Linked DNA regions of Homo sapiens. The protein of the gene in region 1 interacts with the protein of each later gene in a pairwise test. Each region holds a gene or a part of one and is shown on either strand. Other genes may lie near its edges.

Region 1 (4,145 bases):
AATGGCACAATCTTGGCTCACTGCAATCTCCGCCTCCCGAGTTCAAGCAATTCTCCTGCCTCAGCCTCCTGAGTAGCTGGGATTACAGGCGCGTGACACCATGCCTAGCTAATTTTTGTATATTTTTAGTAGAGACAGGGTTTCACCATGTTGGTAAGGCTGGTCTTGAACTCCTGACCTCGTGATCCGCTGGCCTCGGCCTCCTAAAGTGCTGGGATTACAGGTGGGAGCCACCGCACCAGGCCTCTTTTTTTTTTTGAGACGGAGTCTTGCTCTGTCGCCCAGGCTGGAGTGCAGTGGCGCGATCTCGGCTCACTGCAAGCTCTGCCTCCTGGGTTCACGCCATTCTCCTGCCTCAGTCTCCCGAGTAGCTGGGACTACAGGCACCTGCCACTACGCCTGGCTAATTTTTTGTATTTTTAGTAGAGACACAGTTTCACCGTTTCTACCATAGAGCCAGAGAGGGCCCCCTCCTGTTTTTTTATCTCTTACCAAGACCTCCTGGGGCTCCTCATTCCTTCAGGATGGTCTCGATCTCCTGACCTTGTGATCCGCCCGCCTCGGCCTCCCAAAGTGCTGGAATTACAGGTATGAGCCACCGCACCCGGCCTTTTTTTTTTTTTTTTGAGAAGCAGTCTCTGTTGCCCAGACTGGAGTGCAGTGGCACGATCTCAGCCCACTGGAACCTCTGCCTCCCGGCTTCAAGCAATTCTCCTACCTTGGCCGCCCAAGTAGCTGGGATTGCAGGCGCCCACCACCATGCCCAGCTAATTTTTTTTTTTTTTTTTTTTAGACGGAGTTTCGCTCTTGTTACCCAGGCTGGAGTGCAAGGGCGCGATCTCGACTCACCACAACCTCCGCCTCCTGGGTTCAAGCGATTCTCCTGTCTCAGCCTCCCAAGTAGCTGGGTTTACAGCCATGTGCCACCACGCCCAGCTAATTTTGTATTTTTTTAGTAGAAACGGGGTTTCTCCATGTTGGTCAGGCTGGTCTCAAACTCCCGACCTCAGGTGATCCGCCCACCTCAGCCTCCCAAAGTGCTGGGATTACAGGCGTGAGCCACCGCGCCTGGCCTCAAGTGGGTTTCTGAGGGGCTATTTCTTGCTCATTAGTTGGGGGACCGGCCCTCACCACAGATTCCAGAAGCCCAGCAATGCACACTCAGCCCTCAGTGGGCTGTCTCTGAAGGTCCTGTCCCTTTTTCGCTTCCCCCCCGCTGGAGCTGCTTCTCCCGCTTGCGGGAGCCCAGGCTGAGAGCAGACACCCAACCTGTCGAACCTGTCTGACGTCATCATCTCTCCACCCACCTGGGCCCCAGGTCTCCAGCCACCCCGCTCTTCCTGTTCTCAGCTTCCGTCCTCTCTGCTTCCTTACAGCACCCCCACCTGCCAGAGCTGATCCTCCCTAGGCCCTGCCTAACCTTGAGTTGGCCCCCAATCCCTCTGGCTGCAGAAGTCCCCTTACCCCCAATGAGAGGAGGGGCAGGACCAGATCTTTTGAGAGCTGAGGGTTGAGGGCATTGAGCCAACACACAGATTTGTCGCCTCTGTCCCCGAAGACACCTGCACCCTCCATGCGGAGCCAAGATGGGGAATGGAACTGAGGAAGATTATAACTTTGTCTTCAAGGGTGAGTTGGGTTCCCTGAAGCAAGAGGAAGCCTGAGAGACCCAGAAAGAGATTGAATAGAGCCAGAGAGGGCCCCCTCCTGTTTTTTTATCTCTTACCAAGACCTCCTGGGGCTCCTCATTCCTTCAGAAAGAAAGCTGCAGGGAGTGGGGGAGGGTCTGGTTGCAGGGGCAAAAGTCAGGGAGCTTCTGAGTATGCTCTACTGTGGTAAATAATGATGTTGATTCCTCCTTAAGAGTGCTGAGTTAGGCTCCTCTGCCCCGTTCCTAATAGAAACCCAAATCCCTGGTGTCAGCCAGTGCAGCACAAGAGATGGAGGTCAGACTTCAGAAAGGACTTCCCTCTTTTATTTTTTTTTCTGAGACGGAGTCTTGCTCTGTCGCCCAGGCTGGAGTGCAGTGGTACAATCTCAGCTCACTGCAACCTCCACCTCCTGGGTTCAAGCGATTCTTCTGCCTCGGCCTCCCAAGTAGCTGGGACTACAAGCACCTGCCACCACGCCCGGCTTATTTTTGTATTTTTAATAGAGACGGGGTTTCACCATATTGGCCAGGATGGTCTGGAACTGACCTCATGATCCGCCTACCTCGGCCTCCCAAAGTGCTGGGATTACAGGCATGAGCCACCACACCCGGCCAGGACTTCTCTCTTGAGAAGAAAGGGAAACCAGCAAACAAGAGGAAGAAAGTCATCTTTTCTGGGCAGGTGTACAGGGAACGAGAGAAAGGAGAGACACATCCCATTATAGGGTGGGGCAATAAATACATAGGGAAGACAGAAAATATCATGAATTTGCTGCAGAGTCTGATAGAATCCAGAGGACTCCTAGGGTTGTAGCCTCGTCTGCCTGGCCCTTGGCTGACTCACTGGACCTGCATACCAGGCACTGGGCTCAACTTTGCTGTCCCTGGAAGCATGCATGTATCTTTCTAGCCCCTGTGTTTGGTGCCTTTGCTGTTTTCCAACCCCACCTTCATACTTCCTTTAGGGCAGGGTGGACTCTCCAGCCACCCTACCCCAATGCCTCTCCCAACCTCAGCCCGGCCCCTCCCTTGAGCTGGGACTCTCACTCCAGAACCCGCCCTTGAGCTGGGGAACCTGTACTACTGGCATCTTTTCCAGGAAGGAAAGGGTTAGCAATAGTCTGGGGCAATAATATGAGGAACTACCATTTATTGAGCACTTACTATGTACCTGCCACTACCTCATTAATACCATAACAATCCCCGAAAGTCATATTTTATTTTGAGGGGCAGTGTAACATTGTGGTCAGGAGCCAGACTGGGTTCAGATCTCAGCCCTGCCACTTACAAGTATTGCGGGTTGGTCAGCCGGGTGCAGTGGCTCACGCCTGTAATCCTAGCACTTTGGGAGGCCGAGGCGGCGGGATCACTTAAGGTCTGGAGTTCCAGACCAGCCTGGCCAACATGGGGAAACCCTGTCTCTACTAAAAATTCAAAAATTATCTGGGTGTGGTGGCACGTGCCTGTAATCCCAGCTACTCGGGAGGCTGAGACAGGAGAATCACTTGAACCCAGGAAGCAGAGGTTGCAGTAAGCCGAGACTGTGCCACTGCACTCCAGCCTGGGCAACAGAGCAAGACTCTGTCTAAAAAAAAAAAAAAAAAAAAAAAAGTATTGAGGGTTGGGTTGGGGTCCCTAGAAGCAGACGCTGAGAAGAAGTTGGGGTGTTCAATGTTTGTTTGTTTTTTGAGACGGAGTCTCGCTCTGTTGCCCAGGCTGGAGTGCAGTGGAGCGATCTTGGCTCACTGCAATCTCCGCCTTCCTACAACCTCCGCCTCCTGGGTTCAAGCGATTCTCCTGCCTCAGCCTCCTGAGTAGCTGGGACTACAGGTGTGCACCACCACACCCAGCTAATTTTTGTATTTTTAGTAGAGACAGGGTTTCATCATGTTGGCTAGGATGGTCTCGATCTCTTGACCTTGTGATCCGCCCTCCTAGGCCTCCCAAAGTGCTGGTATTACAGGCGTGAGCCACCGCGCCCAGCTCAATGTTTTTTTACAAATCAGCACCTGTGAAAGGAAGGGAGAGGAAACATAATTGGGCAGAGGGAGAAGTCAAACAGCAACACAGGCTGGACAAACCTGGGTCAAGGGCGGGGAGCTCTGTGATTGCCTCACCTTGCTTGAGCACTGGGTGTAGGCTGCCCAGAAAAGGCATGACTTCCAGTGAGGCCGCTGTCTGCACCAGAGGCAGACGCTGAAGGAGCTGACAGCTGGAGCCTGTCTGCAGCCTGCACTCCCTGCAGCTTGGGGCAAGTCCTTCCTTGAAGGCTGATCTGGCCAGCACATCTCTGTGTTTACAACACTAGCCCTGTTATCTTGGGCAAGTCATTTGACCTCCAAAGCGCCTTGTCTGTAAAAACAGGTAAAATAGTAATGGGATTCATGGCATTCTTATGAGGATTAAATGAGGTAATATGTGTAAAGCTTTTAACGACACTGCCTGGCACATAGTAAGCATTCAGTACACTGTAAACATGAACCATTAGTATCTC
Region 2 (4,754 bases), on another chromosome or scaffold:
TAATGTCACACTAAGGAGCCATAATTGTATTCTGGGCCCTGAAATGCACGACAGGGTACAACACAAGGACAGGACTGACACTATGCTGCAGGAAGAGGGAGGGACAGCAGAGAGGTGAGGCAGGAGACCAGCAAGGGGCAGTCACAGCCCAGGGTAGTTCCCATGGCCAGGCTGACCTGAGCAACTCCTAATGCCTTAGCAGTTATTTCTCACCATTAATTAATAAACTGGCACTCTGGTTTATAAAAAGGCAGCAGCAGCTAAGGTAACAGCCCAGAGCAGAGGTTAAAAAAATTTTTTTTTAAGCCTGAACTAGGACAGGAACAATGGGGAAGGTAGGAGAGCCAGGGGGGCCCCTGGGAGCACCCCTTTTTCGCCCCCTGCGGCAGCACTATGGCAGAGCCACTCCACTCTGATCTCTCACTACTGTTGGCAGCAGGGACAGTTATTGACCTCTTATCCCTCACCACCTGAGAAGGGACCCGAGATGCAGAACATCTTCTAACACCTGCCAGGTAAATGACATGGAACTGGCAGGGCTCAGCTTTTGTCTCAGAAACAAGTTGGAAAAACAATGATTTTAAGGGCCTTGTGTGAGAACCCCAGTGGACTGGAAGATGGGAGACCTAGGTTCTAGTCCTGGCTCTGCCTTACTAAGTGGCTTGAAGCAGCCATTTCACCTCTGTAAAATGAGGGTGATAAAATCATGCAGTTAAAGACAAGGTAAAGTGAAACTAGAACTATTATATTCAGAGTATGGTGACACAGTTGGAAAACCCTTTTCCCTAGAGCCTCCTCCACCCTGATGCCTCCTCTCCTCTCCAAGTGCCCACCACAGCAGCCTGCCTCACACACTGGCACACAGGAGCTGTGTGGGCCTCAAGCCAACCCCTGCTGTCTCCCCGCATCCACCGCCTACCCCATCTTTTGATTTGGTATCTACAGTAAAACTGCAAGCCAGACATAATTGCAGGACAGGATACAGCCTCTTATCAGGCCAGAAGATGATTCTTATCACCTCCTCTGGCACCATGCCTGGCACCAGCAACCTTTGGAGGGAGCCCAGGTCCTCATTCATGAGTTCCCCCTGCCTCTGTGGGGACAGCTCACTCATCCCTCCTCAGACCCCAGCCAGGTCCAGCCTCCCTCCCTCCTGGGCACAAGCACTTTTAATCCTCATCCTAATGCTGTAGGCTCCAAAGGTCTGTCACTGTCAGCTCACCCAGCACAAGGAAAAGCTGCAAAAATGGCTGGAGACAAGTCAAACCACAGAGAGCAACAGAAAAGATGTAGGGTTGATAGCACAGTGTAGGGAGAAAAGCATCAGGCTTAGACATCAGAAATCTGGCTGCCACTAAAGAGTTGTGTGACCTTGGACAGGTCATTCCACCTCCTGAGACCCCAGTCTCCATATTCGCAAAAATGGTGATCCCCCTGTCTGCCCTCAGGGAAGAATGAAATGAGGTGATACTGGGAAGGCACCCTTAAAAGTAGGCCAAACCACACAGAAAGATGTGGGTTTATTGTCTATCAAAGGCCTTTTACAGGCCATCATCAGCCCCATATAAGTGAGGTGGCCCAGGACCAAAAAGCAACAACCCTGCCCAGGAGGAAGGAGAGAACCCGCAAGATGACCTCTCTCAGGGGATCTCTGGCAGGTGGAAAAATAAAGAAATTCCACTTAACCCATCCCCCTCCCCAGTGTGCTCCTAACCCCATATTCACCCTGACCAGGAGACTCAGGTTGAGGAAGACAAAACCAAGTGGCGATGGTCCCCTCTGCCAAGGTCTCAGTTCAGACCCCACAACAGGGGGAAACAAACAATAACTTCCCTGCCAGGCTCATGGGAAGTACAGAACTGTGTGGTGAGAACGTTGCATTTGGGAACAAGGAGGGAGGGAAGAAAAAACACAACGCATTTGCCTTTAAATGCAGAAAACACCTTTGGAAGGTTACACAAGAACTGGTAATGTTGGATGTCTCTGAAGAGAGGAGCTAGGTGACTTAAGGTGGGTCAAGGGAAATTTTTTTCATTATGTGCCCTTCTGTACCTTTAGAATTTGGACCAGGTGAACTACTCAAAAGTAAATAGGGGCCAGGTGTGGTGGCTCACACCTGTAATCCCAGCACTTTGGGAGGCTGAGGCAGGCAGATCACTTGAGGTCAGGAGTTCGAGACCAGCCTGGCCAACATGGTCTCTACTAAAAATACAAAAATTAGCTGGGCGTGGTGGCACGCACCTGTAGTCCCAGCTGCTCGGTAGGCTGAGGCAGGAGAATCACTTGAACCTGGGAGGCGGAGGCTGTAGTGAGCCAAGATCACACCATTGCACTCCAGCCTGGGCAACACAGCAAGACTCTGTCTCAAAAAACAAAACAAAACAAAACAAAACTAAATAGGAAGTAAAGAAAGTCCTGCTGTTTTGCTGAGAGTGGCACACAGGGAACTAAGCTTGGCTCCCCTCACTCCCTCTCCTGGCCCAGTCCCACCACACTCACAGTTTCCCTGCCTCCAACTCACCCTGCCTCTAATCAGGTCTCACCTGTTATTCAAGGCCTCACCTCTCCCAAGAAGCCCACCCTGATCACTCCAACTGGTGAGCTCCCTCTTCTCCTGACCCCCTCATTCTCTCACGCTTTTTATATGCTGCTTTGTAGAGGAATTGTCCTTGCTGCGTTAGGCTTATCTCAAACATATTTTAGCCCTTCTGGAGAAAGGGCTATCCACTTTATTTCCCTGGTTTCCCCCACAGCACTGACCTAGGCACAGTGGTTACAATGGTTGTCCAGTAATTGCTTCCTGGATGTTGTGAAACAGAAGGGAAAAAATAGCAAATGACTGTATTGCTGCAGGAGGAAGAACAGGATGGCTTGGAGTGTTCTGTCACAGTAAAACCAGCATGTGACGTCTTGGGAAGGATTACGGAGTCTGGTATGTGCTGATGCCCCCAAGCCCTGCTTGAAAGGAGCAAATCTCCCCAGGGTGGAAAGTGCCCTGGTGGAAAGTGAGGCTGACCTTCTCAGGCCTCACTCCACTCCTTTTTTTATTTTTATTTTTTGAGACAGGATCTTGCTCTGTCACCCAGGCTGGAGTGCAGTGGGGCAATCATTGCTAATCGCAGCCTTGAACTCCCGGGCTCAAGTGATCCTCCCACCTCAGCCTCCTGAGTAGCTGGGACTACTGGTGTGCACCACCATGCCCAGCTAATTTTTTGTATTTTTGTAGAAATGGAGTCTTGCTATGTTGCCTAGGTTGCTCTTGAACTCTTGGCCTCCAGTGATCCTCCTGACGCGGCCTCCCAAAGTGCTGGGATTACAGGCATGAGCCACCACACCCAGCCCTCACTCCACTCCCGAGAGGTATCTGGTGGCAGTGACTCCCTCCCAAAGTATGAGACAACATCCCCCAGCCTCTGGGACAGACATAAGGCTAGAGCTGCAGACCAAATGTGCTTATCCCAATAAACCAAGGACTCACCCAGGAGAAGCAGGTCATGCCTACAGAGCACCAGATTAACCCCCGAGATCCATGTCAAGGAGAAGAGAGGAAGCCTTGGCAGGCAGCAGCTGAGCACCTGGCCCTGTGCAGAGCAGGGTCATGGAAGACATGGGGGAAGACTGAGGTGGGCAGTGTGGTGTGGTGGCCAAGAGCATAGACTGGGAAGCCAGACTGCCTGGGTTCACATCCTGACTTTGTGCCATGTGCTGTGGTCAAGTCCAGTGACTCATGCCTATAATCTCAGCACTTTGGGAAGCTGAGGCAAGAGGATCACTTGAGAGTTCATGGCTGCAGTGAGCTATGATGGCACCACTGCATGCCAGCCTCAGTGATGGAGCCAGACCCTGACCCCACCCCCTCAAAAAAAAGAAAGAAAAAGCAAAGTCACTTTACCTCTCCGTGCCAAGGTTTCCTCAGCTGTTAAACAGCACCTACACCTCAAGGGCTTGCTGTGGACAAATGGAAGTCCAGACCTTAAGACAGTGCCAGCACCCAGATAGGCCTTCATCAGCAATGCACTAGACCAACGAGGCAATGAAAATAATGCACCAAAACAGGTGCCACATGCTCCAGATGTGGGGATTCAGAGAAGGCTGGGGAGGCAGATGGGTTCCATGATGGCCGACAGGTCTCTGGTGTATGTCCCCTCCTCACAGAGGAGGAGACCACAGCCAGCGCCAGTGGCTCTGTCTGCTCCGAACATCTCCAGGGCTCCCTGTCTAGGCCCCAAAACACAGCACTTGGCTATAGGGCTTCCTCCAAATGTAGGGAGATATCCAGGCTTCCCCCCCTTTGGAATCTCTCCCCCACCAGTGGCCCACTCTTGGCCTTTCAGGCCTCTAGAACTGCCTTTGGATTGGACTACCCTTCCAGGTCAGCAGAGAAGCCCAATGTCCCCATCTCACTAAAACCTGGCAGGCACTTCCACAGAAACTCCGGGGTGCACACAGGGCTCCAAATGCCACCTCTTCTTTACCCCAAATCCTACAGCTCTGTGGGCTGCCCGGGTCTAATGGAAACCACACAGAGCACACCCTCCACTAAGTGCTGGGTAGTGAGAGTGTGCAGCTCTCCCTCTGCAAACCCCAGTTTCCTTGTCTGAGCTCTCTTCCAGCTCCCATGCTGGAGTCCCATGAGTAAGGGCTGTGCTCCCTTCTCCACTACCAGGTGAACCAAAGGTCACAGTGGCCTGTGATACCCCCTCCCCACCCTGCAGCTTCTCGGAGGTGCTGGCTGCCCCTGGGAGCCCCGTTTT
Region 3 (4,754 bases), on another chromosome or scaffold:
GCTCCCCCCATTTCATAGGCAGGGAAGCTGGGAGAGGGTCCCCCCATTTCACAGACAAGTTCGGAGAAGGTCCCCCATTTCATAGGCAAGGAAGCTGGGAGAGGGTCCCCCCATTTCACAGGCAAGGAAGTTCAGAGAGGGTCCCCCCATTTCACAGACAAGGAAGTTCGGAGAGGATCCCCCATTTCATAGGCAAGGAAGCTGGGAGATGGTCCCCCCATTTTATAGGCAAGGAGTCTGGGAGAGTGTCCCCCCATTTCATAGGCAAGGAGGCTGGGAGAGGGTCCCCCCATTTCATAGGCAAGGAGGCTGGGAGAGGGTCCCCCCATTTCATAGGCAAGGAAGCTCGGAGAGGGCCAGTGCTTTTTAACGGTCACGCAGTTCTGAGCATCAGGCTGTCAGCCTGGAGCCTGGCTTGGTACTGAGGTTCCCAGGATGTATAAAGAACTGAACACGCACCTTTGCTGTTGGCTCTTCTGTGCGAGTGCTCTGAGAGTTTTCTGTACTCCCGGCAAGTTTGGGTTGGTACAGATTCACCACAGCGAATCTGACCACGTGGTGACCACAAGCACGCGCTTACTGCGCGCCTAAGTTCACACTCCCTGGAGAAGCTCCTGCCCCAAGGCCGCAGCCTATGGGCCTTTGCGTCTACTCAGGACCATGAGGCTGTGTCCCCGAGCCTGGCCCGGGTAGTAACTGGCATGGCCTGCGGTGCTGGGGGCGTGTCCACAGGAGCTGGTGCCACAGAGGACACGTGTGTCTGCTGTCTTCCTGGACTCGGTCGGACCAGTTTCCCAGTGTGTCCGTGAGGGTGACACTGAGTGAGACTTCTGGGATCCACACCTTTCCTGGGACCCTCACTCTTCCTGCCACAGAAAGCACCTGTGAAAGTCTGAGATCAAGAATGTGCACAGGGGAGGTGTCTGCAGGTCAAGGTCCTGAGCTGATGTCTCACAGGCCTCTGGTAGAGACGAGATTGTTCGTGTCTCTGCGAAGAAGGGCATGTTTTATTGCAGCCAAGTACAAAGTCCTCTCTGCCACTCGCTGGCTGGGACTGAGGTCATGTTCTGTCAGGTTCCAAAGAGCGCCAGGAAGACTCTGAGACCACAGAGCACGGCCTGCTTTCTCCCAGCCCCTGGTAAAGATGTCCAGCCTGGGACCTCCCCCTGTATATAGTGCTTTAAGTGGGAGAAGACCACCACCCAGATCAGGGGAGGACCTGTCCCCTGCAATGCTGCTGCCTGCTTTTCAGATTGACTTGGGAGTGCTTGTGCTGACGGAGCATGTCCTGTGGTTTTTCCCTTTCTTCCCTCTGTTGTTGTGCCTTTTCTGTAGGTACCTGCACCAGTCAGGGGCCCTGACCATGGAGGCCCTGGAGGACCCTTCCCCCGAGCTCATGGAGGGCCCAGAGGAGGACATTGCTGACAAGGTAGGCCCTGGAGGGCTGGGTAGGTGGCAAGTAGGGGATTTAGAACACAGCCACGCCTAAGGGCCGCTGCAGACACCCCGGGAGGTGGGGACAGCACAGCCGGAGGTGACCCCATGTCCTCCAGGGCTCCCCAGACTGTCCATCCAGCCCCGATGCTCTTTGGCAGGTTTCCCCAAGGGGTCTCGTGGCCATGTGAGAAAAAGGAGTCTTCCTGTTGTGCACGAAGGGCCAGCTGGGAGGAGTGGACTGGGCAGTGAGTGAGCACCCTCGGGTATCCCACCCCCACTGTGTCTGAGTCGGGCTGGGGGACACCCAGACATTCAGTCCACCAGGCCCATGGAGACGCGACCTGGGGCACCCATGATTTGGGAGAAAAGGGCTGGCCCTGCAGTTACTGCAGAGCCAACAGCCTGAGGAACGGGCTTCTCCTGGGGCCTTGAATGGAATGGGTGACAGCAGCCAGGGCAAGGCAGCCTTGCCGTGGTCAAGACCCGCTTTTCAGCCAGATGTGGTGGCTCACGCCTGGAATCCCAGCACATTAGGAGGCCTAGGCGGGCAGATCACTTGAGGTCAGGAGTTTGAGATCAGCCTGGCCAACATAGTGAAAACCCGTCTCTACTAAAAATACAAAAGTTAGCCACGCATGGTGGCGGGCAACTGTAATCCCAGCTATTTGGGAGGCTGAGGCAGGAGAATCACTTGAACCTGGGAGGTGGAGGTTGCAGTGAGCCGAGATTGCACGACTGCACTCCAGCCTGGGCGACAGAGGGAGACTCCGTCTCACCTTCTGCACCCCCTCACCTTCTGTGACCCCTTCACTTACTCCTGTACCCCCTCAATTCCTCCTGTACCCCTCATCTCCTCCTGTACCCCCTCACCACCTCCTGTACCCCCTCACCACCTCCTGTACCCCCTCACTACCTCCTGTACCCCCTCACTACCTCCTGTACCCCCTCACCTCCTCCTGTACCCCCTCACCTCCTTGTGTACCCCCTCACCTCCTGTACCCCCTCACCTCCTCCTGTACCCCCCCACCTCCTCCTGTACCCCCTCACCTCCTCTTGCACTCCCATCTCCTCCTGTACCCCCTCACCTCCTTGTGCACCCCCTCACCTCCTGTACCCCCTCACCTCCTCCTGTACCCCCTCACCTCCTCCTGTACCCCCTCACCTCCTCCTGTACCCCCCTCACCTCCTCCTGTACCCCCTCACCTCCTCCTGCACTCCCATCTCCTCCTGTACCCCCTTACCTCCTTGTGCACCCCTCACCTCCTGTACCCCCTCACCTCCTCCTGTACCCCCCTCACCTCTTCCTGCACTCCCATCTCCTCCTGTACCCCCTCACCTCCTTGTGCACCCCTCACCTCCTGTACCCCCTCACCTCCTCCTGTACCCCCCTCACCTCTTCCTGTACCCCCTCACCTCCTCCTGCACTCCCATCTCCTCCTGTACCCCCTCACCTCCTTGTGCACCCCTCACCTCCTGTACCCCCTCACCTCCTCCTGTACCCCCCTCACCTCTTCCTGTACCCTTCACTTCCTCCTGTACCCCCTCACCTCCTCCTGCACCCCCCTTACCTCCTGTACCCCCTCACCTCCTCCTGTACCGCCTCACCTCCTCCTATACCCCCTCACCTCCTCCTATACCCCCTCACCTCTTCCTGCACCCTCCTCACCTCCTCCTGCACCCCCATCTCCTCCTGTACCCCCCTCACCTCCTGTACCCCCTCATCTCCTGTACCCCCTTACCTCCTCCTGCACCCCTCACCTCCTGTACCCCCTCACCTCCTCCTGCTCCCCCACCTCCTCCTATACCCCCATCTCCTCCTGTACTCTCTCACCTCCTCCTGTACCTCCTCACCTCCTCCTGTACTTCACCTCCTCTTGCATCCCCACCACCTCCTCCCTACAACTTCTCTAGCATCTCAAGTCTGCTGACCCAGGCCAAGTCCTCCTCTGCTCCCTTCACTCCTTCTCCTACCTCCGCAGGTGTCTGATTCTCATCTTGGTGTGAACTCTCTGAGGGAGGGACCGAGACATGGATCTGTCTGTCCCTTGCATCCATGGGCACCTGGGCTGCCTCTGTGAGCTGCATCTGGCTGAGCAGAGACCCAACTGTGTGTTGGGGGGCTGAGTCTTGCTGCCCACCAGCCAGCCAGTCCAAAGGCACCCCTGGGCCCCGAGCCCTCAGAGCTGCGGCACTGTGTGCATTTGTGGGTCGAATGACAGTGCTCCCCAAGACCCCGGCCCCATTAGGAGCTGCACCTTTGTGGGTTTATGGGACAAGTTGGATCCAACACCAGCCTAGCTAGGTGGATCTGATTCTGTGCTGAGAAAATCCCCAGGCGGCCTCCCAGGTTGTTCCCTTGGGGGTGCAGGCCCTTCTGCTTCTGGCTGCCTGACCCTGAAGCCTGGTCTCATTGCCAAGGTTGTCTTCCTGGAAAGGCGTGTGCTGGAGCTGGAAAAGGACACGGCAGCCACCGGTGAGCAACACAGCCGCCTGAGGCAGGAGAACCTGCAGCTGGTGCACAGGTGAGCCTGGGCCAGGAGACCCGGGCCTCTGCGTGGCGCCTCCTGTGCCCGCCTGTCAGCCCCCATTTACTTCTCTTTACCTCACACAGCAGGGGCTTGGCCACCCGTCCATCCCCGTTGGAAGCCGGCTGAGGGGGTGGTGCCAGGTGGTCATCTGAGCCTACCCAGTGGGCTGCAGGCAGGCGACCCGAGGCTCTGACTGGTGCTCTCATGGAACCCTAGACACACAGAGGGCCAGAGGAGGGCACTGCCTCCCTCTCGGGAGCGCTGAGACCTGACCCACACAGAGGAGGAACTGACTGCGAACCCACGCAGTGCTCAGCCTCACCAGCAGGCCTGGAGGTGCAGCTCTCCCACCACTCTGGTCCATACGGGGTTTGCCCGTCCTGGAAGAATGCAGGTTAGAGAAGTCGCTCAGCAGCAGAAAGCGAAATGAGCAGTGACTGCTGAGTACGCGACAGGACGCGCAGTCTCATCGCTGTGGGCAGGAGTGCTGGGGAGGAAGCGAAGTGTGACGCCGTGTTTGCAGAGAAAGAGTGGGAGCTGCTTGCCTCACTCTGGTTTGCAGACTTTTCTTAGAATACCGTGTAATTCTCGGTGTTTTTCACACGAGGCACGCCATGTTGTCTCATAGCCGATTTGCAGGACTGTTTCCGGTGCAAAGTAAGATGAGCTTGTCCCAGGAGTCAGCTACCCAGGCTATGACACCTGTAGCTGGGCACCGGCAGCCTCTTGTGGGCAGAGGAGGCAGCCAGGAGGCCTATGAGGCACCTGTGGGATCTGCAGAAGAGGTTC
Region 4 (4,754 bases), on another chromosome or scaffold:
ATACTGTTTTCAGTTTCTTTGTACAGTTGAACTAAAGTTACCATGCTTGGGACTTTCCTTAGTATCACATGTTAGCTTGACTTCCTTCCCTCTCTTGTCCACCTTCTCTACTCCCCTACCAGTCTTTTCCGGAAAACACTGCCTTACAAGTCTCTTGAGCAGGAATCCTTGTCTCAGGATCAGATTCTAGGAGCCCAAGTTAACCATAACTCATGGTGGCTTAGCTTAGTGGATGTTGAGAATCTCAAGGGCTTTGGCCCCTCTATGGTCCCAGGAAAGGCTGAAAAGAAGCATGGAGGTTGTGTGTCATGCTGTCACTTTCCTTCTGAGGCTCATTCTCTGTCTTGCATGTGGTTTTTTTCTTCTCTCATCCCTAGTTCCAATTCCGTTGATCCTCTGCTCCCCGTTTTCAGATGGGCCTATAAGCCCAGTGGATCCTGCTTCACCATGTTGGCGATCATCAGAATTTTGAAGTTTGTACTTGTGACTTGTGGATGTGGCATATTCCAATGGCCTGTAACCTGTAATCATTGAGCAGGCTCTTGCCCTGCCCTCCTTTGTTGATAGGTGTGTGTGTTTTTTTTTTTTTTTTTTTTTTTTTTTTTTTTATGACAGAGTCTCACTGTGTCACCAGTCTAGAGTGCAGTGGAACGATCTCAGCTCACTGCAACCTCTGCCTCCTGGGTTCGAGTGATTCTGCGGCCTCAGCCTCCTGAGTATCTGGGACTACAGGTGTGTGCCACCACTCCCGGCTACTTTTTGTATTTTTAGTAGAGACGGGGTTTTACCATGTTGGCCAGGATGGTCTCAATCTCTTGACCTCATGATCTACCCACCTCAGCCTTGTTGATAGTTTTTATGTGATGCTTTATCTAAGTAGGCTGAGATTCTGGAGAACAGAGGCCATACCAGATGTTTTTAGGAGCCTTCAGTGTGTTTGGTGATAAAAGCTAAATACACAAAGTACACTAACAATACAGGATTATCTGTGTGTCATTAGAGGAGTGCACATACTCCTCTACAAGTTACAGGCATTTTGTAGAAGTGTTGGTCTGGTGGGCTACAGTATTGCGGGAAAGGCTTCCTTTAAGGTGTAGTGGGACATGACTGGGGCCTAAAGAATGAATAGGATTTGAAATGCATGAGGAGGCTGTAAAGAAGGATGTTCTCTCAGGAGGAGACAGGGGAGAGTGAGTTTAAGCATAGGGACAGGTATGAGCTAGATGTATATGGGGATAATTATAGCACTATTTTTAACTATTTTGAAATATACACTTACAGAAACATTGCAAAAATAGTGCAGTTTCTATATTTTTCCAGATTGCTCCAGTGTTAACATGTCATATAACCATAGTGCAATTATTGAAACCAGGAGGTTAACATTTCTGTAATACTACTAACTGGTCTATAAAGCTCACCGGAATTTTACCACCTTTTTCACTAATGTTCTTTTTCTGGGCCAGGATCCTGTTTAGGGTTCCACATTGCCTTTAGGGTTGTAGCTCCCTGCCCCCCTCTAGTGACAGTTGCTCAGTTTTTTGTCTTTCATGACCTTGACACTTGAAGAACATTGGTCAAGCCAGGCACAGTCACTCACACCTGTAATCCTAGCACTTTGGGAGGCCAAGATGGGAGGATCCCTTAAACCCAGGAGTTCGAGACTAGCCTGGACAACATAGCGAGACCTCATCTCTACAAAAAATAGAAAAAATTAGCTGGGTGTGATGGCATGCACCTGTGGTCCTAGCTACTCTGGAGGCCGAGGTGGGAGGATTGCTTGAGCCTGGGAGTTGAGGTAGCAGTGAGCTGTGATTGTGCCACTGCACTCCAGGCTGGGTGACAGAGTGAGACCCTGTCTGCCCACCGCCCACCCCCCCAAAAAAAGCATTTCTCAATAATTTTGTAGAATGATTTTGGGTTTGTCAGACTGTCTTATGCTTACATGGAGGTTGTGACTTTTGGGCAAGAACACATCATAAATGCTGTGCCTTTCTCACTGCATCACCTCAGGAGACAGTGATATCAATGTGTCCTGTTACTGACGGATCACTTTGATCCCTTGGTTAAGCTGATGCCTGTCAGTTTCCTTTTATTGAAGAATGGAATTTAGAAATGAAGATCTGGTTGCTAGGTGTACTCATTACTACTTTTTGTAGTTATGTAGAAATTACAGAGACTAGAACTCAATAAATGTTTTATTAAGGGCAAGGGAAGTAGAAGAGTCAACTATGAACTTGAAATATCCACCTTGAGTGTGGACAGAAGTCAGGTTGGAGCAGGGATAATTCTTGATTTTTGACATGTTGGGTTTGGGATGAAAATGGTTTGTCTAAGTGAAAGCATTTATTTACATTTGGAGATTTACGAAAGAGCTTAGAGGAGAAATGTCAGGATCTGGGGTTCTTGCAAATGATGCCTGGGATTTGCTTTTCTTTAATGAAGAAATGCAGTTGTCTGATAGCATGGTGTTAATAAGGGTAAGATCAGGAGCTTGGTATGGGCATTTCCAAGGCCTTTGTGACTATGATCTTGAGGTGGACACCCTGGATATTGTGGCGCTCTCAGCTCCGACACATTGGAACAGATACTTTCTAAGCCTTGATTTCTTTATCTGAAGAATTGGGGTGGTACCTGCACCATGGGAAGGTTACTGGAGGCTTATAATCCTAATCCATGTGAAGTGCTTGTCTAACATAGTGTTGGCAACTGTTCATTAGTTTGCTTCTCCCTCCAGTCACCATGCTGGGTGGCAGTCAGCATTATGTGGCTAGCATGTTTTTTCCCCTAACCCTTCCCTGCTGTCCTGAAGGGGTCTTGATCACAAGGAGACTTGGTGAAAGAGGAAGTAGGATTGCTACAAACATGAACTATGAGAGCGGTAGACAAGATATGGTACTCCCCACCACCCCTGGGGAAGGAGCAAGAGCAGTCTGAAAGAAGTTTTAAGTTTAACCTGTGCTTTCTGGTCTCTTATTATAGCTTTAAAGGAAAATTAAAAAGCATTTTTCACAATGCTTCTGTTTTCCCTCTGTGAATACAAATGATTATTGAAACAATCCATACAATGCAGGAAAGACAAAAGCTCTGTAGTCTCATTCCCAGAAACAGCTGCTCTTGACCACTTAGGCATGTTCTCTGGACCTCCGTTGTCCAACAGGGTAACTGCATGTGGCTGCTGAGCACTTGCGATGAGGCTGGCCCAGCTTGGGATGAGCTGGAAGCGTGCAGTACTGTACACACTGGGTTTCCAAGACTTAGAAAAATGTATGCGAAATATCCTTCATACTTCTTATATTGGTTATGTGTTGAAGTGATTGTTATTTATATATTGGCTAAAATATTCTGTTCAATTCACCTTTTAAATGTGGTTATTAGAAAATTTAAAGTACCACAGGTGGCTCACAGTTGTAGTTTGCATTCTGTTTCTCTTGGGCAGTGCTGCTTTAGACTTATGCACAATATGTACTCAAAACAAATGGGATCATGCCATGTCTATTACTCTAAATCTTAATCTATGGCTATCTTTTCCTGTAGCCTACAAAGGCAATTTTGCCATTTTTAATGGCTGCACAAGGCAGCATATGGATGTACTGTAATTTTTTCTTAAAAATATACATTTTTTAAATTGCCAAGATCTGATGCCATATACTGTAATGTGTTTAACCATTCCCATGCTGATGAGCATTTAGGTTGGTTCCAATTATTTTCCTTTTGTTTTTTGTTGACAGTAATAATTGCACAAATTTATGGGGTTCAAGTGATTTTTTTAATACACGTATACAATGTATAATGATTAAATCGGGCAATTAGGTTATCCACCACCTCAAACATTTATCATTTCTTTGCATTAGAAACATTCAAGATCCTATCTTCTAGCTTTTTTGAACATACTAATAAATTGTTAATCTTTTGATACTGTGAAAGATTGTTCTTGTAACCTCATTTATTTTCTCAGAATAAATTCCTAAAGCTGGAATTGCTGGCATGCACATTTATAGTCTTCATTGATATGGCCAATAGCCACCACAAGAGAACCAGTCTGTTTCTTCGCCACTCTAAGTTCGGGTCATTGTTCTTTCTCTCTCTCTCTCTTTTTTTTTTTTTAAATTCTTATTCATACTAAATGTTTTACACATGTTTTAAAGTTGACTTTCATTGGAGGGTTGAGCCTCTGTTCACATGCTTGGTAGGCTCTACATTATTGATCACTGGGAACAATGTGTTGTTTTCCTTATATTTCTTGTTTGTATTAACTGGCATTATTTATAACTGTTTTTGCTCATTTAAATGACTACTCTATATTTTTTATTTTTTTGAGACAGGGTCTCATTCTGTCACCCAGGCTGGAGTGTGTGTGGTGGTGCAATCATGGCTCACTACAGCCTCAATCTCCTAGGCTCAAGCAATCCTCCCACCTCAGCCTCCCAAGTAGCTGGGAACAGGCATGCGACACCATGCCCAGCTAACTTAAAAATAATATATATATATATATTTTTTTCTGTGTGTGTGTGTGTGTGTGTAGAGATAGGGTCTCACCATGTTGCTCATGCTGGTCTTGAACTCCTGGCCTCAAGTGATCCTCCCACCTCAGCCTCCCAAAGTGCTGGGATTATAGGCATGAGTCACAGCACCCAGTCCACTCTATATTTTGAGATAGGAAAACATGGAAACCAGAATATTCAGGATACAATATATACATTTAAAGAATAAAGCACCTTGGCATGTATTTTCCCCTTCATTTGTTCTGAGCTTAT
Region 5 (4,754 bases), on another chromosome or scaffold:
GGGGCAGGTCGGTAGGACGGCAGGGTCATAGACTTCAAGGAGTCCTTGGTGGAAGATTCGGAGAGCTGCCTGTCAGAAGACAGCCCACCTCCTTCAGCAGGCTCCTTCCAAGACCCAGCCGCCAGGTTCTCTGTAGAAGAGAACAAATGCTTCTTTCTGAAGCCCTTGGGGGATGGGGAGGAGGACGGGCTGCTATCCTTGATCTCACCCTTGGCTTCTGGCTGCTCCAGGTAAACATGGTTCCCATTGATGCAGACATTAGAGCGGGAAAGGACATCATTCTTAGACCGAAGGCCACCAAGAAAGGAAAGTCCTTCCTTCTTGGGAAGGGTAAAGTTGACCTGGTTCAGTTGCTTAAGATCCGTACTCGCTGTTCTCTTGTGAGACATGACTTTGGGAAGAAAAAGAACAGAAAGGGGATAAGATGTTAAACGGGTGGTTTGCAGTGTAGGGGCATCTGTCAACGTCTGGATACATTTCTGGTTGCCACAACTTGGAGGGGGTGTGCTGCTATTCGTATCCAGCAGGTAGAGGACAAGGATGATACTGAACATCTTACAACGTATAGCACAGCCCCCCACGACAAAGGCCTGTCTAGTCTAAACTGTCCACAGTGCTGAGGTTGAGAAACTCTGGGTTAAACCAATGAAAAGGGCAGCACTCTTGGTAGAGTAGCAGAATCCGGCCAATGGGAGGGATTTAGACATTGAAATTGAAGTTCAAAATACATAATTAACTCAGAGCTAAAGGAAGCAGATTCCTTGGCTTCTGATAAGGCTATATCCCACGAGGGTTGAGCACATCACAGGAACTCAATAACTACCTGATGAATTAATGAAATATCAGAATTACCATAAGGTTCCATGGTTTTACCCTTAAAAAAAAGAAAAAAAAAACTTGGAAGACACTCATTCTGTTAGCTCTAAAAGCTTGTACTAGTGGACATCATTTATAGAGCCAGGAACTCTGGAAAAGGAATTTATACATTCTTAGAAACCAGAGGGTATAATCCCAGCACTTTGGGAGGCCAAGGCAGGTGGATCACTTGAGGTCAGGAGTTCAAAACCAGCCTGGTCAACATGGTGAAACCCCAACTCTACTAAAAATACAAAAATTCACCGGGTGTGGTGGCACGGACCTGGAATCCCAGCTATTCGGGAGACTGAGGAAGGAGAATTGCTTAAACCCAGGAGGCGGAAGTTGCAAAGAGCCAAGATCGCACCATTGCACTCCAGCCTGGGTGACAGAGCAAGACTCCATCTCAAAAGAAAAGAAAAGAAAGAAAGGAAGGAAGGAAGGAAGGAAGGAAGGAAGGAAGGAAGGAAGGAAGGAAGAAAGAAGGAAAGAAACCAGAGGGCTTAGAAATAGAGAGGGCATCTCAGCCATGGGCAATGGTTCACACCGGTCATAAGAGCCCTTTGAGAGGCTGAGGCAGGAGGATCACTTGAAGCCAGGAGTTTCAGACCAGCCTGGGCAACATAGTGAGACCTCATCTCTAAAAAAAAAATTTTTTTTAATTAATCAGGTGTGATGATGCACACCTGTAGTCCCAGCTCCTCAGAAGGCCAAGGTGAGAGGATTCCTTGAGCCCAGGAGTTGGAGGCTGCCGTAAGCTATGATCGCGCCACTGCACTCCAGCGTGGGCAATAGAGCAAGACCCTGTCTCTAAAACAAACAAACAAAAAATATTTTAAAAAAAGAAACAGAGAGGGCATTTTTTTTTTTTTGAGACAGAGTCTCACTCTGTCACCCAGGCTGGAGTGCAGTGGCACGATCACAGCTTACTGCAGCCTCTACTTCCTGAGCTCAAGCAATCCTCCCAGCCTAGCCTCCTGAGTAGCTGGGACTACAGGAGTATGTCATCACATCTGGCTAATTTTTATATTTTTTGTAGAGACAGGGTTTCACCATGTTGCCCAGGCTGGTCTCAAACTCCTGGGCTCAAGCAATCTGCCTGCCTCAGCCTCCCAAAGTGCTGGGATTACAGGCGTGAGCCACCACGCCTAGCCTTAGAGAGGGCATCTTAACCACCGCTATCATCATCCCCACCACCATGATTTTGTAATTGAGGAATTGAATTAAACTCTTTCTCTTGAGATTTGTCTGTTTCTTCTCTCTCAGAACGAAGCATGGTAAGAGGAAGAAGAGAGGTCAAGCAGGAAGAGGCAGAAACTCACCATCCGAGGCCGAGGAGGACTCATCCTCATTGTCATCTTCATCCCACTGGGACTGAAAGTCTCCGGGACGAAGCAGCACTTTTTCTGGCTTTGAAGTCGGCAGGACAGACATGGACTGGGAAAGAGGCGTCTTCTGCAAATTTGACTTGGAAAGTAAGGTCTTGATCTTTGATTTCTTTTTCTTGTCTTTAACCACAGACTCATCATCACTGTCGACCGAAGGTGTCGTGCTAGGGATGATGGCGGAGGCGGTGTCTGACCCACTGTCCTTATTCTTCCCCTTGATCTTGTCCTTCAGCTTTCCAAATGGATTCCGAGACTTGTCTTTCATAGAAAGGTCAAACATGCTGGCAGTCATGTTGTTTCTCATAAACTGGATGTCAACCTCAATTTCTCCTCGCTCCTTGTCCTTCTTTCCTGGTTTGGATTTCAACTTATACCACCTGAAAGGAGAAAGGCTGAGGAGTTACCTTTGAATGGAAGCAACTGCAACAATGTTCACAATCCCCATGAACTGGCCTCTCCTCTCTGCTACCAGCAGCCTCTTCAATGCATGCATTCTCATGCTTTCTCTTCGGGAAGTGGTAGATGAGAGCAGAATTTTTTTTTTTTTTTTTTTTTTTTTTTTTGACACAGAGTCTTGCTCTGTCACCCAGGCTGGAGTGCAATGCCACCATCTCGGCTCACTGCAGCCTCTGCCTCCTGGGTTCAAGTGATTCTCCTGCCTCAGCCTCCTGAGTAGCTGAGATTACAGGAGCGCGTGACCATGTCCAGCTAATTTTTGTATTTTTAGTAGAGATGGGGTTTCACCATGGTAGCCAGGCTGGACTCGAACTCCTGACCTCAGATGATCCGCCCGCCTCAGCCTCCCAAAATGTTGGGATTACAGGCGTGAGCCACTGCACCCGGCTGAGAGCAGAATTTGCACTTTTATTTCTTTTGTTTTGTTTTTTATTTTGCACTTTTATTTTTGAGAAGACACGCGCTAGACAAAGATAGGATCCAGTGTTGTGCTTAGCGTATAATCACCTCAAATCCTGATTCAATAAAGAGCTCATTCTAAAAATAAAGAAAAAAAAATATTCCATGGAATCACTTCCGATGAGTGATGTTTTCCTTCAGTAGGGTAAAAATGTAAAGATCAGGGCAGGTGCGGTGGCTCACACCTGTAATCCCAGCACTTTGGGAGGCTGAGGTGGGTGGATCACAAGGTCAGGAGTTCGAGACCAGCCTGGCCAATATGGTGAAACCCCATCTCTACTAAAAATATAAAAAATTAGCCGGGTGTGGTGGCAGGCGCCTGTGGTCCCAGCTACTCAGGAGACCGTGGCAGGAGAATCACTTGAACCCAGGAGGCAGACGTTGCAGTGAGCCGAGATCGCACCACTGCACTCCAGCCTGGACAACAGAGTGAGACTCCATCTCAAAAAAAAAAAAAAAAAAAAAAAGCAAAGATCATACACAAACAGTTAAGAAGGGTGGCGTGCAAATGATGTATAATTAAATCTCAGAGAAAATCAAGTTTGTAGTAAGGAATGGTCCCTGCCAGGGAGTAAAAAAATAATAATAATACAACACAGAATTAAAAAAAAAAAAAAAGTGGGGAGGGGGTTGGGCATGGTGGCTCACACCTGTAATCCCAGAGATTTGGGAGCCTGAGGCAGGAGGATCACTTGAGGCCAGGAGTTCAAGACCAGCCTGGGCAATATTGCGAGACTCCATCTCCATAAAAAATTAAAAAATTTGCCGGCATGGTGGTGTGCGCCTATACTCTCAGCTACTCAACATGAGCCTAGGAATTCGAGGCTGCAGTGAGCTATAATTGCACCACTGCACTCTAGTCTGGGTGACAAAGTGAGACTCTGTTTCTAAAAATAAATAAATAAAAATAAAGAATTTTTTAAAAGAGTGAAATCAGGCTAGGCACAGTGGCTCACGCCTGTGATACCAGTACTTTGGGAGGCCGAGGCAGGCAGATCACCTGAGGTCAGGAACTCAAGACCAGCCTGGCCAACATGGCGAAACCCCGTCTCTACTAAAAATACAAAAATTAGCCGGGCATCATGGCGAGCACCTGTAATCCCAGCTATGCAGGAGGTTGAAGCAGGAGAATTGCTTGAACCCGGGAGGCGGAGGTTGCAGTGAGCCAAGATCATGCCACTGCACTCCAGCACTCCAGCTTAGGCGACAGAGCCAGACTCCATCTCAAAAAAAACAAAAAAAAAAGTGAAATCAGTCAGTTAGAAAATGACAAACACTATATGAGTCCACTTATGTGAGGTTCCTGGGTTAGTCAAATTCATCCAGTCAGAAAGTAGAATGGTGATTGCCGGAGGAGGGGAAGGAGAGAATGAGGAGTTAATGTTTGATGGGTATAGAGCTTCAGTTGTGGAAAATGAAAAAGTTCCGGAGATGGATGGCGGTGATGATCACACAACAATGTGAATATTCTTAATGACATTGAACTGCACACTTAAAAATGGTTAAAATGGGGCCAGGCGCAGTGGCTCACGCCCGTAATCCCAGCACTTTGGGAGGCCAAGGCGGGCAGATCACTTGAGGTCAGGAGTTTGTGAC

Evidence for each region.
Region 2: the proteins of RAB25 (region 1) and RAB11FIP5 interact in a two-hybrid assay, tested with the Homo sapiens proteins (3 studies listed by BioGRID).
Region 3: the proteins of RAB25 (region 1) and RAB11FIP3 interact in a two-hybrid assay, tested with the Homo sapiens proteins (one study listed by BioGRID).
Region 4: the proteins of RAB25 (region 1) and MYO5B interact in binary tests that used the Homo sapiens proteins (3 or more experiments, as listed by UniProt).
Region 5: the proteins of RAB25 (region 1) and RAB11FIP1 interact in a two-hybrid assay, tested with the Homo sapiens proteins (one study listed by BioGRID).

The regions. Positions count from the first base shown.
Region 1 is NC_000001.11:156,059,815-156,063,959, forward strand, and holds the start of RAB25 (ras-related protein Rab-25 precursor), read left to right. Parts: upstream 1-1,345; 5' UTR 1,346-1,586; coding exon 1,587-1,629; intron 1,630-4,145. UniProt on the Homo sapiens protein: The small GTPases Rab are key regulators of intracellular membrane trafficking, from the formation of transport vesicles to their fusion with membranes.
Region 2 is NC_000002.12:73,102,202-73,106,955, forward strand, and holds part of RAB11FIP5 (rab11 family-interacting protein 5), read right to left. Parts: intron 1-4,754. UniProt on the Homo sapiens protein: Rab effector involved in protein trafficking from apical recycling endosomes to the apical plasma membrane. Involved in insulin granule exocytosis. May regulate V-ATPase intracellular transport in response to extracellular acidosis.
Region 3 is NC_000016.10:501,669-506,422, forward strand, and holds part of RAB11FIP3 (rab11 family-interacting protein 3), read left to right. Parts: intron 1-1,335; coding exon 1,336-1,429; intron 1,430-1,595; coding exon of another isoform or gene 1,596-1,625; exon of another isoform or gene 1,626-1,997; intron 1,998-3,855; coding exon 3,856-3,959; intron 3,960-4,754. UniProt on the Homo sapiens protein: Downstream effector molecule for Rab11 GTPase which is involved in endocytic trafficking, cytokinesis and intracellular ciliogenesis by participating in membrane delivery. Recruited by Rab11 to endosomes where it links Rab11 to dynein motor complex.
Region 4 is NC_000018.10:50,184,640-50,189,393, reverse strand, and holds part of MYO5B (unconventional myosin-Vb), read left to right. Parts: intron 1-4,754. UniProt on the Homo sapiens protein: May be involved in vesicular trafficking via its association with the CART complex. The CART complex is necessary for efficient transferrin receptor recycling but not for EGFR degradation.
Region 5 is NC_000008.11:37,874,932-37,879,685, forward strand, and holds part of RAB11FIP1 (rab11 family-interacting protein 1), read right to left. Parts: intron 2,621-4,754; coding exon 2,178-2,620; intron 392-2,177; coding exon 1-391. UniProt on the Homo sapiens protein: A Rab11 effector protein involved in the endosomal recycling process. Also involved in controlling membrane trafficking along the phagocytic pathway and in phagocytosis. Interaction with RAB14 may function in the process of neurite formation.